Linked DNA regions of Homo sapiens. The protein of the gene in region 2 interacts with the protein of the main gene of each other region in a pairwise test. Each region holds a gene or a part of one and is shown on either strand. Other genes may lie near its edges.

What was found. The genes of interacting proteins can lie anywhere in the genome.
Region 1: the proteins of RSRC1 (region 2) and SRRM4 interact in binary tests that used the Homo sapiens proteins (3 or more experiments, as listed by UniProt).

Annotation. Positions count from the first base shown.
Region 1 is NC_000012.12:118,984,537-118,991,564, reverse strand, and holds part of SRRM4 (serine/arginine repetitive matrix protein 4), read right to left. Parts: intron 1-7,028. UniProt on the Homo sapiens protein: Splicing factor specifically required for neural cell differentiation.
Region 2 is NC_000003.12:158,120,088-158,127,115, forward strand, and holds part of RSRC1 (serine/Arginine-related protein 53), read left to right. Parts: intron 1-2,015; 5' UTR 2,016-2,017; coding exon 2,018-2,211; intron 2,212-3,778; coding exon 3,779-3,904; intron 3,905-7,028. UniProt on the Homo sapiens protein: Has a role in alternative splicing and transcription regulation. Involved in both constitutive and alternative pre-mRNA splicing. May have a role in the recognition of the 3' splice site during the second step of splicing.

The DNA of each region.
Region 1 (7,028 bases), on a different chromosome or scaffold from region 2:
GTTCAACAAGGAGCTCATAGTCACAGTCCCTCTCCTCATGAGGCCTCAACCGTTAGGAGAGGTATGCTTTAGCCAATGATCGCCCAAATCCATATATAATTACAAATGTGTTGAAAACAGTGATAAGAAAGTAATGTCTGTAATGAGGGGTATGACTTAGTCTGCAGCATTCTGGAAGGATCCCCGAGGAAACAGCATTTCCTCTGAGCTCTGGAAAGTGGAGTAGGTATAAATCAGGCACCAGGGGAGAGGAAGAGCTTTCCTAGCAGCATGTGCAAAGGCTCCATGGCAGGAAGGAGCCTGGAAAATGTGAGTAACTAAAAGGAATAAGATGCAACTAAACAGAGGAAGTGAGAGGTGGTGTTTTAGAAATGGTCTCAGGGAGGTGGGCAGGAAGTGGACCATGAAGAGGCTAGAGGCCATGGCAGGGAGCTGGCTCTGTATACTTAAAAAAACATGGGTCCAGGCATGGTGGCTCACACCTGTAATCCCAGTACTTTGGAAGGCCGAGGAGGGTGGATCACCTGAGGTCAGGAGTTCAAGACCAGCCTGGCCAAAATGGTGAAACCCTGTCTCTACTAAAAAAATACAAAAATTAGCTGGGTGCGGGGTGGGTACTTGGGAGGCTTAGGCAGGAGAATTCCTTGAGCCTGGGAGGCAGAGGTTGCAGTGAGCTGAGTTCGCACCACTGCACTCCAGCCTGGGTGACAGAGCGAGACTCCATCTCAAAACAAAAACAAACCAAAAAAACACAAACAAGAGAAAGTGATAGAGGGCTTTAGATGGAGGGAGAGAGGGCTTACATGGTCTGATGTGCTTTTCAAAGAGGTTCTTCTGGGTCTATGTGGATAATGGATAAGAGGGGCAAGGAAAGAGGAAAGCAGTATTGCTGCAAGTGGTATGAGATGGGATTATAACAATGGCAGTTACTAAACTGATTGAACATAAAACAAGATGAGCAAAACAAAACAAAAACACCCCCAACCTTAAAACCCAAACCAGAATGACAGGAAGTCCAGCCAGGAGAGAAGAATATACTAGCAATCAGACAGACCTGAATTCATCTCCTGCTTTCATCACTTACACACCGTGTGATCATGGGCACACTGAATTAAGATGACATAGAGACAAAGCCGAACCAAATAGGACAATGCCGAACCCTGAAACAGTCATTAAGCAATTCACATCTACGTGTGTCTGTTCAAAACAAATAGTAAGAACCTCCGGACGCAAAGGTTTCTCATCTAGAGACTCCCCTGGTTGCTGGATTCCCAGGGCTTACCTCCCCTCTGTGATACCATTTTTTCCTCCTCTGCAAAGTGTCTTATCCTATAAACATGTTGGTTAAGAGCTCTGGGTTCTCATTCCAATTCTGACTCTTACCAGCCATGTGTCTGTGAGCAGATCATTTCTATTCTCAGAGCCTCTGTTTTCTCATCTGTAAAATAGGGTCTTGAAGACACCTCTCTTCTGGAATTATTATAAGTACAGAACTGGATAAGAGATGAAATGTGTTCAGCACAGGGCAAGGCACATAGTAACACAAGGCTCTTAGCACACACATTCCCACCACAAGTGAGCGTGCACACACACCATGAAGATGCACGCTTCAGGCCCAAATGGCACCTCTCTTTCTGCAGAAGTGGCAACTGTCTTCTAAATTCCTGCTCAGTTGCCTAAGCTTAACTTTTAACGAAGCCAGAGAACAGTGATCTGTTGGTATTTGTACTCAGCAAAGCTGTCCGACAGCGGCATCTAAGCTTTGGGAATCCAGCAACCAGAGGATTCTCCGGATGAGAAAGATTTGCGTCCAGAGGATCTTAATATTTGTTTTGAACAGACACACGTAGACATGAATTACTTAATGACTGTTTTAGGGTTCGGCATTGTTCCTGTATTTGGTTTGGCTTTGTCTCTATGACATCTTAATTCAGTGTTCTATTTCACAGAGCTCCGCACAGAGGCTGTAGCATATGGGAGCTCCCTCAGCAAAATTTCAAATGGAGTGGGGGGCTGGAAGGTGTGGGGGGACAGGTGCCGGGAGAGATACACAGAGGGAGAGAGACAGAAAGAGCAGACTGTAGCTTCAAGAGTGTGCAGTGGAGGGGGCTACTGGGTGCAAGGGATAGTCTAGGTTTGCATGCATGAATATGAGAGACCAAACCCTTGCACCGTGGGAACAAAATCTATCACTGCTATTTGGAAGTCTAAACAGCATCTTTAAAGTTTCCTGATGTGATTGTTCACAATCAAAGGGACTGTAAATTTCATGCTTGTCCATAACACATGGAGGGACCCAGCCAATCTTCTGATATTGCTGTTCAAAGTCATCACTGGCTGCATCAGAGTCAGGAAAGAGGAGTCAAACAGAAGCAGATCAGATCTGGAACTCTGCTTGAGAAGGCAAGAACCCTCCTGGGACCACCTCCTGCCCCCAGCCCAGGACCTAGGAATTTCCTGAACTGGCTTACAAGGCCCCACTTGATCTGTTTTCTGCCTGCATCCTGGGAATCATCTTCTGTCACTCTCCCATTCACTCACTCTGCTCTAGCCACACTGACCTCCTTGCTATTTCTCAAATACACCAAGCATCCTTCTACCTCAGGGCCTTTGCACTTGCTGTTCCCTCTGCCTCAAACACTTTTCTCTCACTTATCCTCACAGCTCACCTCTCCCTTCACTCAGGGATCATGCTGTCCAACAAAGCAGCTCATTCCCTCACCCTCTATTCCTTTCCTTGGCTTTATTGTTCTTTACAGAATGCATTACCACCAGCTCTCATTTATTTATTTGGTTCTTCATTTATTGTCTTTCTCCTCCACGGGAACAGGGAGTTCCTGTGTTCATTCACTGTTACGTTGAGTAGTGGTTCAATAAAAATGTTGAATGACTGAATAAATGAATGAAAGTACAACCTAATTTTTTTTTAGCCAACGTGCAGCTTCTTCCACTTTGTGTATTAATTCCCCTGTGATTAATTTTATCTTCCACATTTGCAGGCTCGCTATAATCCCCCCATCACTGGTGGTTGTTCATGGAATGCAGACTAGATTTCCTATTAGCTAGAGCTGGTCCATGAAGGACAAGAAGCCTAATAGCCCACGCCAGAGACTGCATCCTTGAGCTGGAAAATGTATATTATATGAGCAGCTCCCTTCCACGGCTCCCCTCCACTAGCGTTGACTATTCCCCCACAGTTAATGTTCCCCTCAGAGAGTTTAGCCTGCTTTCTCTCCTATTAAAAGAAATGGTATTTGAGACCCTGCTGGGGGCAAAGGTCTGATTTTCTCTGATCATTCCTTGTATTTGTAGATAACGTTGATGAAATAGAAGAATCATCCCCATTTTGCAGATCGGATAACTAAAAATAACTGTGTGACTATAAGCAAGGGACTCCATGCTTCATTAAGGGTCTCTCCCTTCGCTGTTTTTTTTTTACATTCCTCTGTCTCTATTTCTCCCTACATTATCATGCTTAAGACAATAATATGTTTTACAGTTTCAAATAGCTAGAAGAAAAATACTGAATGTTTCTAATAAAAGAAATTATAAATGTTTAAGATGATGGATATGTTAATTACACTGATCTGATCACTGTACATTATATGTATCACAACACCACTATGTATCCCCCAAATATGTACAGTTATTATGTGAAAACAAATTTTAAAAATTAAAAAGACTGTCTCCCTTATGAAATATGTACTTATGTTGTGTCTACCTTTTCTACTAAACTCTGAGGCCCTCACTAGAGGACATTCAACTTTTTTCTCCCCAATGGGCCTGGCAAATAGTAACGAAAAAACCTATCATTTATTATTAATAGCAAGAGCCAACACTGATGGAGCTCTGACTGGGTGCCAAGTAGCACTTTCCATAAATTAGCTCATCCAGTCCTCACAGCAGCTCTTGGAGGGAGCTGCTATTATTAGCCCCATTTTATGGATGAGAAAACTGAGATTGAGAAGGTCAAGCTGCTTGCCAAGTCTCATAGCCCGTAAGCATTTGCAACCAATAAAATAAAACACTTCCTTTGATTAGTGTGCCCCTGAGGTCCATCAAATGTTTCAAACAGCTCTACCAATCTCCAGTGGCTCTTTAGGGAGCACCAAAGCCACATTTAAAAGTGAATACAGAGCATTGGAGCTGCTCAGGAGTCCAGTCCACAGAACCCAAGCATCACTACTGAACAAGCGCAGCCCAGGTAGTAAGGGGCTTTAGCATCCCCCCTCTCTGCATCTCGTTGGGTAGCCCCTGGCATAGTACACAAGAGCATCTGCTTTATGGAGATCTGGGTTTGTACCAGGCACAGTGCCATGCTCTTTATATAAATTATCTCATTCACTCCTCACTACAACCCCAACAGAGGAGTATTTCACAGATGGGGAGGCTGAGGCACAAAGAGGTGAAGTGACTAGCGGGTCCTGCAGCTTGCACGTAGCAAAGAAAGATTTGAGCCTGGATAGATTTGACTTCAGAGCTCAAACTCTTCATCATTCTACTTCCTCCACCTCAGAAATATTCTCTCACACTTCAGCGAAAGTCTTAGGAACAAGCAATTAAAGAGCTCTAGTTTTGCTAAGCCCCTGTGAATTCTTCCACTTCACGGGAAGGTAAATCCAGCCACTCTGAAAAATAAAAAATAAAAAAAACAGATTTTTTTTTTAATGTATTGCTCTTCTGCAGCATGCCTGAAGAGTTCATGGAGAAGAAGGCATGTGACCCAGGCTTCCTTCCCTATTAAAGGAGTTAGGGTTTTAGGGATGTTCCCTTTTTTTGGTGGCCTGGAGCAGTGGTGGAGGTAATGGAGACTTACAGGCCTAGAAAGCACATCCAAGTGGCATTTAGTCCAACCTCCTGCCCCCATACTGGCTAACATGTCTACTTGCCCAGACAGACAGATGTCTCTATCTAGGGAACTTCATTCTGACACCAGGGAGAGTCAAGTCTATTTGCAGTGTGTGCGTCTTTCAAGTTGCATTGATCAGAAGCCTCAGCGTCTCAGAACTGGAGGTGGGGTGGGGAGAGAGCTAATCTGTTGCTGGGTTTGAACCATGCACATTCATCTAATTAATGCATCCAACATTCACTGAACATCTACCACAACCTCGTTCTCTAAGATAGCACGTGTGCCGGGTGAACACAGCAGAATGTCAGAAATGACCCCCTGCAACCAACCCCTGTATCCCATTCAACAAATTTCACCTTTCAAAAGGAGAAAGGTTTGACCCACACAATAACGCTCCCTTCCTAGAGAAAAACGCTCATTCACCGCCAGGGCAAGCATTTTCTGTGACCCTCAGCGCATTGGCTCTTAACCACAGGCTGCTGCCAGAAAATCGCCTCTCAACAGCCCCTCACCTGGCTCCTGATGATCAAGTCAGCACAAACTGCTAACTGATCTCTTGGCACCGAGGGGAGTCTTGAATTAAATGGTTCAAAGGCATTTTTTTTTCTGCCTTACAATTTCCCTTTATGCAGTAAAATCTCCAATAGTTTGGAATTTATGGCCTTTTGGACAGGGCCTGGGCTGAAGTCTACTTCTGGTCTATTCTGCGTAGAAAGGATTTTTGAAGAAAATTAATAGCTTGCTAAAAGAATTGTAAGGAAAATGTGTGTTCTACTTAAGGGGATATCTTTTCTAGCCCTTTACTAACACTCATGCATCCATAAACAATTGATATGCAAATTTCAAATGATTTTTACATGTTCATTAAGCCTTTAGCTGCTACTATTGGTCGATATGGTGATATGAAATCATATTGTGGCTTGATCTAGCCTTAAGCACTAGGTTTTCACCGAGCTGAAACTTCTTAGGTACAAACTTCTCTAGGCTAAGCAATTAAAAAAGAGAATTAAGTTAATGCCAGGCAAAATGACTACCCTTCTTGGATGGGGATAAAAGGGAGGTGGCTCTCTACACTTTAGAGATTCATATATCTTATCGATTCATGCTGGTTCCCTTCCGGCTGGTAGATAAAGTTTGACAAGGACCACTGTACATCCTGGTTTGCCTGGGATGATCTCTGTTAGATCTTCCATCCTAGGTAATTACTAATGACACCTTCTTTCATTTTTAAAGACATTTTGATATAAACTATAAATCACATAGTCACTGTAGATTTGATGAAACCGTGGGATTAAAATTGTGATTTTTCAAGAAGTTTGAGCTTTCTTTAGACTGACAGTACCTGGTCTTCTCTATACAAACCAACAGAATGCTCCATGGAAATGTTATACCAATCAATTCTGAATCCAGATAATTATTTATTATCCCCAACCCCCTAACTGAAACAGTCAGATCAGAAAGCAGTTAGCCTCTTCTCAGAGACGAGGATTATGGGACCACTCTCTACCCTGCCTCATGTGTGTTAACTTCATCTGAATGTAGTTGTCCATCAGGAGTTGAAATCCCAATAAAAATGGTCAGCATTACTTGGGGGAGAAATGGGTAGGCATGGAGAACACAATGATGAGGAGTTGTTGCTTTCCTTTTGGCCACTATAAGCTTTGTTCCAGAGTCAATGTCTACTAAACAACACCATGCACCACACATAGGGGTAGAGCTTTACCTAACTAAATCCTTACAACCTGTTGTCTGAGGGGTTACTGTTATTATTTCTATTTTCAAGCTCAGTGTGGTAAAACTATTTGTTCAGGATACACAGCTAGTAAATGATAGAACCAGGACAGGAATCCAGGTTGTCTCATGCTCAAGTCTGAGCTCTTAACCACTATGATATACTGCTTCCCACTCTGCTCTACTGTTCTGACATTTGAGGCAGACATCTGGTTGCAATTTGATACATTATAAAGCTATTGCCTCATCAAGTATGCCCCACAGAGGGGTAGAGGAGAAAGAGAGACTAAGCAGGGGGTTGCTTAGATTGCAGTTGCATGATGTATGCATATTGCTATGAAATCAATGAATTGAATATATGTTTCTATCCTGGTACTAAATTACCTTGAGAGATAGACTTAAAATATCCTGAGGAAGTTTATTCAGAGGGGTGGCCTTCATCTATAAA
Region 2 (7,028 bases):
CAAAGTGCTGGGATTACAGGCGTGAGCCACTGCACCTGGCCACTTTCATAGTCATTTTAAAGCTGGAAAGTGTCGTGGTAATCTTTTACCTATTGTAGTTTCATTTTTTAAATGAGGAAACTGGCTTAGATATGTAAGTGATTTACTGAAATCTTCAAAACCAAGTCTTCCCAGTGTTTTGTTAAACTAAAATCTTAGACATGTGAGCAACTTGGACGTTCAGAGCTACATTTAAAATCCTTAATTCTGGCTCTAGGTAAATAGCTTAAAGTTTTGATTTGAGTCCTAAGAGATTTTTTCAACTGGTATTGTATTGGAATCAGGGAGGGGCTGGCTCACCTGATGCTTCTGAAAGCAAAGCAGTAATTTAACATATTATAAGTTGGCACAAAAGTAATTGTGGTTTTTGCCATTACTTTTAATGGAATGTATTAATTATTAAATATATAAATAATATAGAATTAATATATTAATATTAATATATTAAATATACAGTTAATATTAAGTATTATATAGTTAATATTTAATATATAATATATTTAATGTTAAACATACTATACATAATATATATTTAATATATTAAATAGATAATATATATTTTATATATATATAAATATATTCCATTAAAAGTCATGGTAAAAACTGCAATTACTTTTGCACCAACATAATACTTTGTTTATAGTGACGGTATTTAACTTATTTTGAATAAATATTAAAGATGATGTGAGCTTTTATTTATCCTAAGTGATTACAACGAATGGATCTTGTTTTTATATGACTTTGAAAGATAACTAATAACTATTTTAATAAAAAATAGTATTGCATATGAGAATCTAAATTAAAGTAAGACAACTAAGCTTCTTGTCAGCAAAGTTAATTCCTAAATATGAAAGCCTTAGGTTCTATTTGTTTTTTCTGTTGTATACTAAATGTCCGTGTTACCATAACTATATAGAAATAGTTTGAAAAACTATATTTTATATTATGAAAATTATATTGCATCATTTAAATACTAATTTTCATATGTACATATTTTCTTAAATTATCTCAATGGATACCACTATAATAATGCTGTGATGAATATTTTCATGAATATATCCTTTAGAAAAATTTTTTCAGATGTATTTGTAGAAGTAGGATTTCTCTGTCAAAAAAGCATCAACATTTTTAGATTATTATTACTCAATTGTGTACATATTTCTTAATGTGGATATAAATATATATGTTTGTGTGTAATATACACATACAAATGTGGATGTCTGTTATAGATATAATATCTATTATATCTGCTTAATTTATTGTTTTATTGCTTTCTAAAAAGATTATTCTACCACCTTATAGAGATACTAGCAGTGTGTGAAGAGCTGACTGATTTCTCAATAACCTCATCAACTTTAGTACTTTAGTTAATATTGTCTCCCCTGAGTTTCACAAGTGAAATGATGATTATAGTTCATTGTTTCAGTTTGTACTTTGTTGATGACTAATGAGGTTTTAGCTATTTAAAGATGTAGAATTTTCTGTTAGAAAAAAAATTCAACTCTAAGATAGTAAAATATATTTTGTCATTAGGGAATGTGAGAATAAAGGAATAGTTGGTTGATTACTAAAGAAAATGTCATATAATTAATGAGAAATATAACTTAAAATATCAGATAATTGATATAAAGAACTGCTCTCAGTCTTGTCAAGAAGCCAGGCACATAAACAATTTTACTTTGAATAAGACTTTTAAAAATTTTACAAAGTTTTATAAAAAGTAGTACATTGAGGCCAGAAATGGTGGCTCATGCCTGTAGTCCCAGCACTTTGGAAGGCTTGGGGGAAGGATCGCTGGAGCCCAGGACTTCCAGGTTGCAGTGAGCAATGATTGTACCACTACACTCCAGCCTGGGATACAGAGGGAGACCCCATCTCTAAAATAAATAAATAAATGAAATAAAAAATTAATATATTGCATTTCATCCATTGTGCCACCATGTTAGAAATAATATTCTTCAAATTTATGCTTATAGAAATGGGACGTCGGTCATCAGATACTGAAGAAGAAAGCAGAAGCAAGAGAAAAAAGAAACACCGTAGACGGTCCTCCTCGAGCAGTTCTTCAGATAGTAGAACATACAGCCGAAAGAAAGGAGGAAGGAAATCAAGATCAAAGTCAAGATCTTGGTCCAGAGATCTTCAGCCTCGTTCACATTCTTATGATAGAAGGTGATTTTTGTAATTTTTATTTATATAGTAATGAGGATAACATTCTTTAAAATTCATGTTTTTGTATTTTTAATTTTGCTAGATAAAACATTTTTCTTTTACTAGCTATATATTTATGAAAGTCCCAACCCAGAGTTTTTTTGTTCCACCAGGTCCAGTCCGTGGGTCTAGTGTCCTCAACCTTTGTCTGTTCTTAGTAGGCAAATAGATAGAAAGTGGTGTAGTTTCCTTTTTTAATTTAATTTAATTTTTTTTCTAGTGCATTTATTTATTTATTTTTCTAATGAATTATTTTTTATTTTATTATACTTTAAGTTCTAGTACACAACATGCAGGTTTGTTACATATGTATACATGTGCCATGTTGGTGTGCTGCATCTGTTAACTCGTCATTTACATTAGGTGTATCTCCTAATGCTATCCCTCCCCTAGCCCCCCACCCCATGACAGGCCCCAGTGTGTGATGTTCCCCTTCCTGTGTCCAAGAGTTCTCATTGTTCAATTCCCACCTATGAATGAGAACATGCGGTGTTTGGTTTTTTGTCCTTGCGATAGTTTGCTGAGAATGATGGTTTCCAGCTTCATCTATGTGCCTACAAAGGATGTGAACTCATCCTTTTTTATGGCTGCGTAGTATTCCATGGTGTATATGTGCCACATTTTCTTAATCCAGTCTGTCATTGATGGACATTTGAGTTGGTTCCAAGCCTTTGCTATTGTGAACAGTGCTGCAACGGAGTTTTGCTCTTGTTGTCCAGGCTGGAGTACAATGGCGTGATCTCAGCTCACTGCAGCCTCTGCCTCCCAGGTTCAAGCAGTTCTTCTCAGCCTTCCAAGTAGCCGGGATTCCAGGCATGCACCACTATGCCCAGCTAGTTTTGTATTTTTAGTAGAGACAGGGTTTCACCATGTTGGTCAGGCTGGTCTTGAACTCCTGACCTCAGGTGATCTGCCCTCCTCAGCCTCCCAAAATGTTGGGATTACAGGCGTGAGCCACCGTGCCTGGCCTTAATTTTAAATTTTTTTAGAGACAAGATCTTGCTCTGTCACTCAGGCGGGAGTGCAGCGGTGCAGTCATATCTTTTGGACTCAAGGGATCCTCCCACCTCAGCTTCCTGAATAGCTAGTACTAGAGGCATGTGCCACCATGCCTAGCTAAGTTTTTTTATTTTTATTTTTTGTGGAGACTTGGCCTTGCTGTGTTGCCCAAGCTGGTATCGAATTCTTGGCCTCAAGCGATCCTCCTGCCTCGGCCTCCCAACATGTTGGGATTACAGGCATGAGCTACTGAGCCTGGCCTTGGTTTAGTTTTCATACCATATAATCTGATGATATTTGGAAAGATTCTAAGACCCTTAATACCTTAATTAGTACTGATCCAATCACTAAGTTATGAACCAGTCATATGACTGTTCAAGAGAAATAACATTTTAATTTATCTCTGTTTGCTTCCAGGAAACAGTGAGACAGTAAAAATCAGATGATTCTTTAGAATCTAGAAGGTTTTTCCTTAATGCTCATAATAAAAATTTTTATAGCAGTGATCTTTGATTATATTTTATTTCAGACGCAGGCATCGATCAAGCAGTAGCTCTTCTTATGGCTCCAGAAGGAAACGAAGTCGAAGTCGTTCAAGGGGTCGAGGGAAATCCTATAGAGTTCAGAGGTCTAGGTCAAAAAGCAGAACAAGAAGGTATGCCTTATTAAGTATTTATTGCTTTGTAACAAATTATTCCCAAATTCAGCGATGTAAAGCAACAATCATTTATTTTCTTATAATTATATAATTTTGATTGAGCTTAGCTGGCACTTATTTTTTTCTCACCTGGGGTCATTCATGCAGTTAGTCATCTGATAGCTTGATTGGAACTGGATGGTCTAATGTGGCCTCACTCATATATCTTGCATTTGGTTCTGGCTATTGGCCGGGGTGTACGTGGCTTCTCATTGTCCAGTAGGCTAGATTGGGTTTCTTTTTTTCAGCCCGGTGGTGGTAGCACGTGCGTTCCCCAGACATGAGTTTACTAGTATTTTGTTAAGGATTTTTGCGTCAGTATTCATCAGGGACTTATGGCTTGCAGTTTTCTTGTAATATATTTGTCTGGCATTGGTATCAGAGTAATGCTGGCCTGATAAAATGAGTTTGGAAGTACTCCCTCCTTTTCAGTTTTTTTGGAAGATTTTGAAAAGGATTGACATTAATTTCTTTTTAAATGTTTGGTGGAATTCTGCAGTGAAGCTATCTGCTCCTGGGCTTTTCTTTGTTAGAAGGTTTTTGCTTACTGATTCAATCTCCTTGTTAGTTATACGTCTGTTAAGATTTTCTCTTCCTTCATGATTCAGTCTTGGTAGGTGGTATGTTTCTAGGAATTTATCCACTTTTTCTAGGTTATCCAGTTTATTAGCATTCTTAGTAGTCTTTTATAATCCTTTCAATGTTTGTGGCATCAACTGTAATGTCTGCTGTTTCATTTCTGATTTTAGTTATTACGCTTCTGGTATTTTTTCTTTTTCTTTCTTTCTTTTTTTTTTTTTTTGGAGGTGAGGTGTTGCTCTGTCACCTAGGCTTGGGTGTATTGGTGCAGTCAGCTCACTGCAGCCTCAAACTCCTGGGCTCAATGATCTTCTCACCTCAGTCTCCTAAGTGGCTAGAAATACAAGCATACACCACCAGGCCTGGCTGACTTTTTAAAATATGTTTTGTAGAAATCAGTCTTACCATATTGCCCAGGCTAGTCTCCAACTCCTGGTGTCAACTGGTCCTCCCACCTTATCCTTCCAAAGTGCTGGCATTATAGGTATGATCTACCTTGCCCGGCCTCATTTTTTCTTAATCTAACTAAGTACTTGTTAATTTTGTTGTTGTTTTTCAAAAAACTCTTAGTTTTGTTGATTTTTTTCTAAAGTCTTTCTGTTCTCTATTTTATTTATTTTTTTCTCTAATCATTTTTATTTTCTTTCTTTGGATAATTTTTGGTTTAATTTGTTCTTTATTTAGTTCCTTGAAGTATTAAGTATGATATGAGACTTTTCTTTTTTTCTTAAATGTAGGTGTTCATGCTAAAACTTTCCTTTCAGTATTGCTTTTGCTGTTTCTCTTAAGTTTTACTATGTGTGTTTGTGTTTTCATTTGTTTAAAGGTATTTTCTAATTTCTCTTATGATTTCTTCTTTGGTGTATTTGGTTGTTCAAGAGTGTGTAGTTTAATTTCTACATATTTGTGGATTTTCTGATTTTTCTACTGCTATTGATGTCTAGTTTCATTTCTTTGTGTTTCGAAAAGATACTTGCTATGATTTCGGTCTTATTAAATTTGTTAAGACTTGTTTTGTGGCCTAACATGAAATCTGTCGTGGAGAATGTTCCATGTACACTTGAGAAGAATGCATATTTTGCTGCTGTTGTGTGGAGTGTTCTGTGTATTTATGTTAGGTCTAATTCATCTGTAGTGTTGTTCAGGTCCTCTTATGTCTTATTTTTCTGTCCATTATTGAAAGTGGATTATTGAAATACCCTACTATTACTATGTTACTAAATACTTCTCCCTTCCATTCTGGCAATGTTTACTTTATATATTTGAGTGCTCTGGTGTTAGGTGCATATATATATAATTGTTATATATTCCAGAATAATGACCCATTTATCATTATATAATTTTCTTTTTTTCTTGTGACAGTCTTTGACTTAAAGTCTATTTTGTCTTGTGTAAGTATGGCCACTTCTGCTCTTTTTTTGTACCATTTGTATGGATTATCTTTTTCATCTTTTTCAGTATATGTGTGTCTTTACATCTAAGGCACATCTTTTGTAAACAGCATATACTGTAATTGTATTTTGTGTGTATGAGTGTGTGTTTTGAAAAATTCATTCAGCTACTTTTGTGTGTTTTGTTTGGGGAGTTTAATCCAGTTACATTTACAATAATTACTGATGGGGAAGGACTTACTGTTGCCATTTTGTTGATTGTTTTCTGCCTTATAGCTATTTTGTCTCTCATGTCTCCTGCTGCCTTCCTTTTTGTTTTGTTGATTTTTGTATTGACATGCTATGATTTTTTTTCTGATTTTATTTTGTATATGTTCTATAGGTATTTTCTTTGTGGTTGCCATGAGGCTTACACAAAACATTGTCTTTTAAGTTGGTAATAACCTTTGACTTTATACAAAAATACTGCTCTTGTATGTTTCTCCACTTCTATTTTATGTTATTGATATCACAGTTTACATCTTATTGTATCCATTAATATAGCTTATAGTTAGTTATTTTTTATACTGTCATCTTTTCAATTCTATATCTGAATTAAAAATGTTTTACATACCACCATTACAGTGTTAGTGTACTCTGTACTTGTGTATATATTTACCTTTACCAGTGAGCTTTATGTTTTCATGTACTTTTGTGTTGCTGTCTAGTGTCATTTCATTTCCACTTGCAGGACTCCTCTTAGTATTTCTTGTAAGGCAGGTCTGGTAGTGAAGAACTCCCTTAGCTTTTGTTTATCTGGGAAAGATTTGATTTGTCTTTTGTTCTTGTAGAACAATTTTGCTTGATATAGTGTTCTTGATTGACAGGGTTTTTTTTGTTTTTGTTTTTGTTTTTGTTTTTGTTTTTGTTTTTGTTTTTTGCTTTCAGCACTTTGAATATATCACCTGATTCCTTTCTGGCTTGTAATGTTTCCTCTGCAAAATTGCTGAAATCTTATGAAAGCTCCCTTGTGTATGACGATTTACTTTTCTCTTGCTGCTTTCAAGATTCTCTCTTTGCCTTTAACTTTTGTTAATTAGATTATAATGTGTCTATGTGGGCCTCTTTTACTT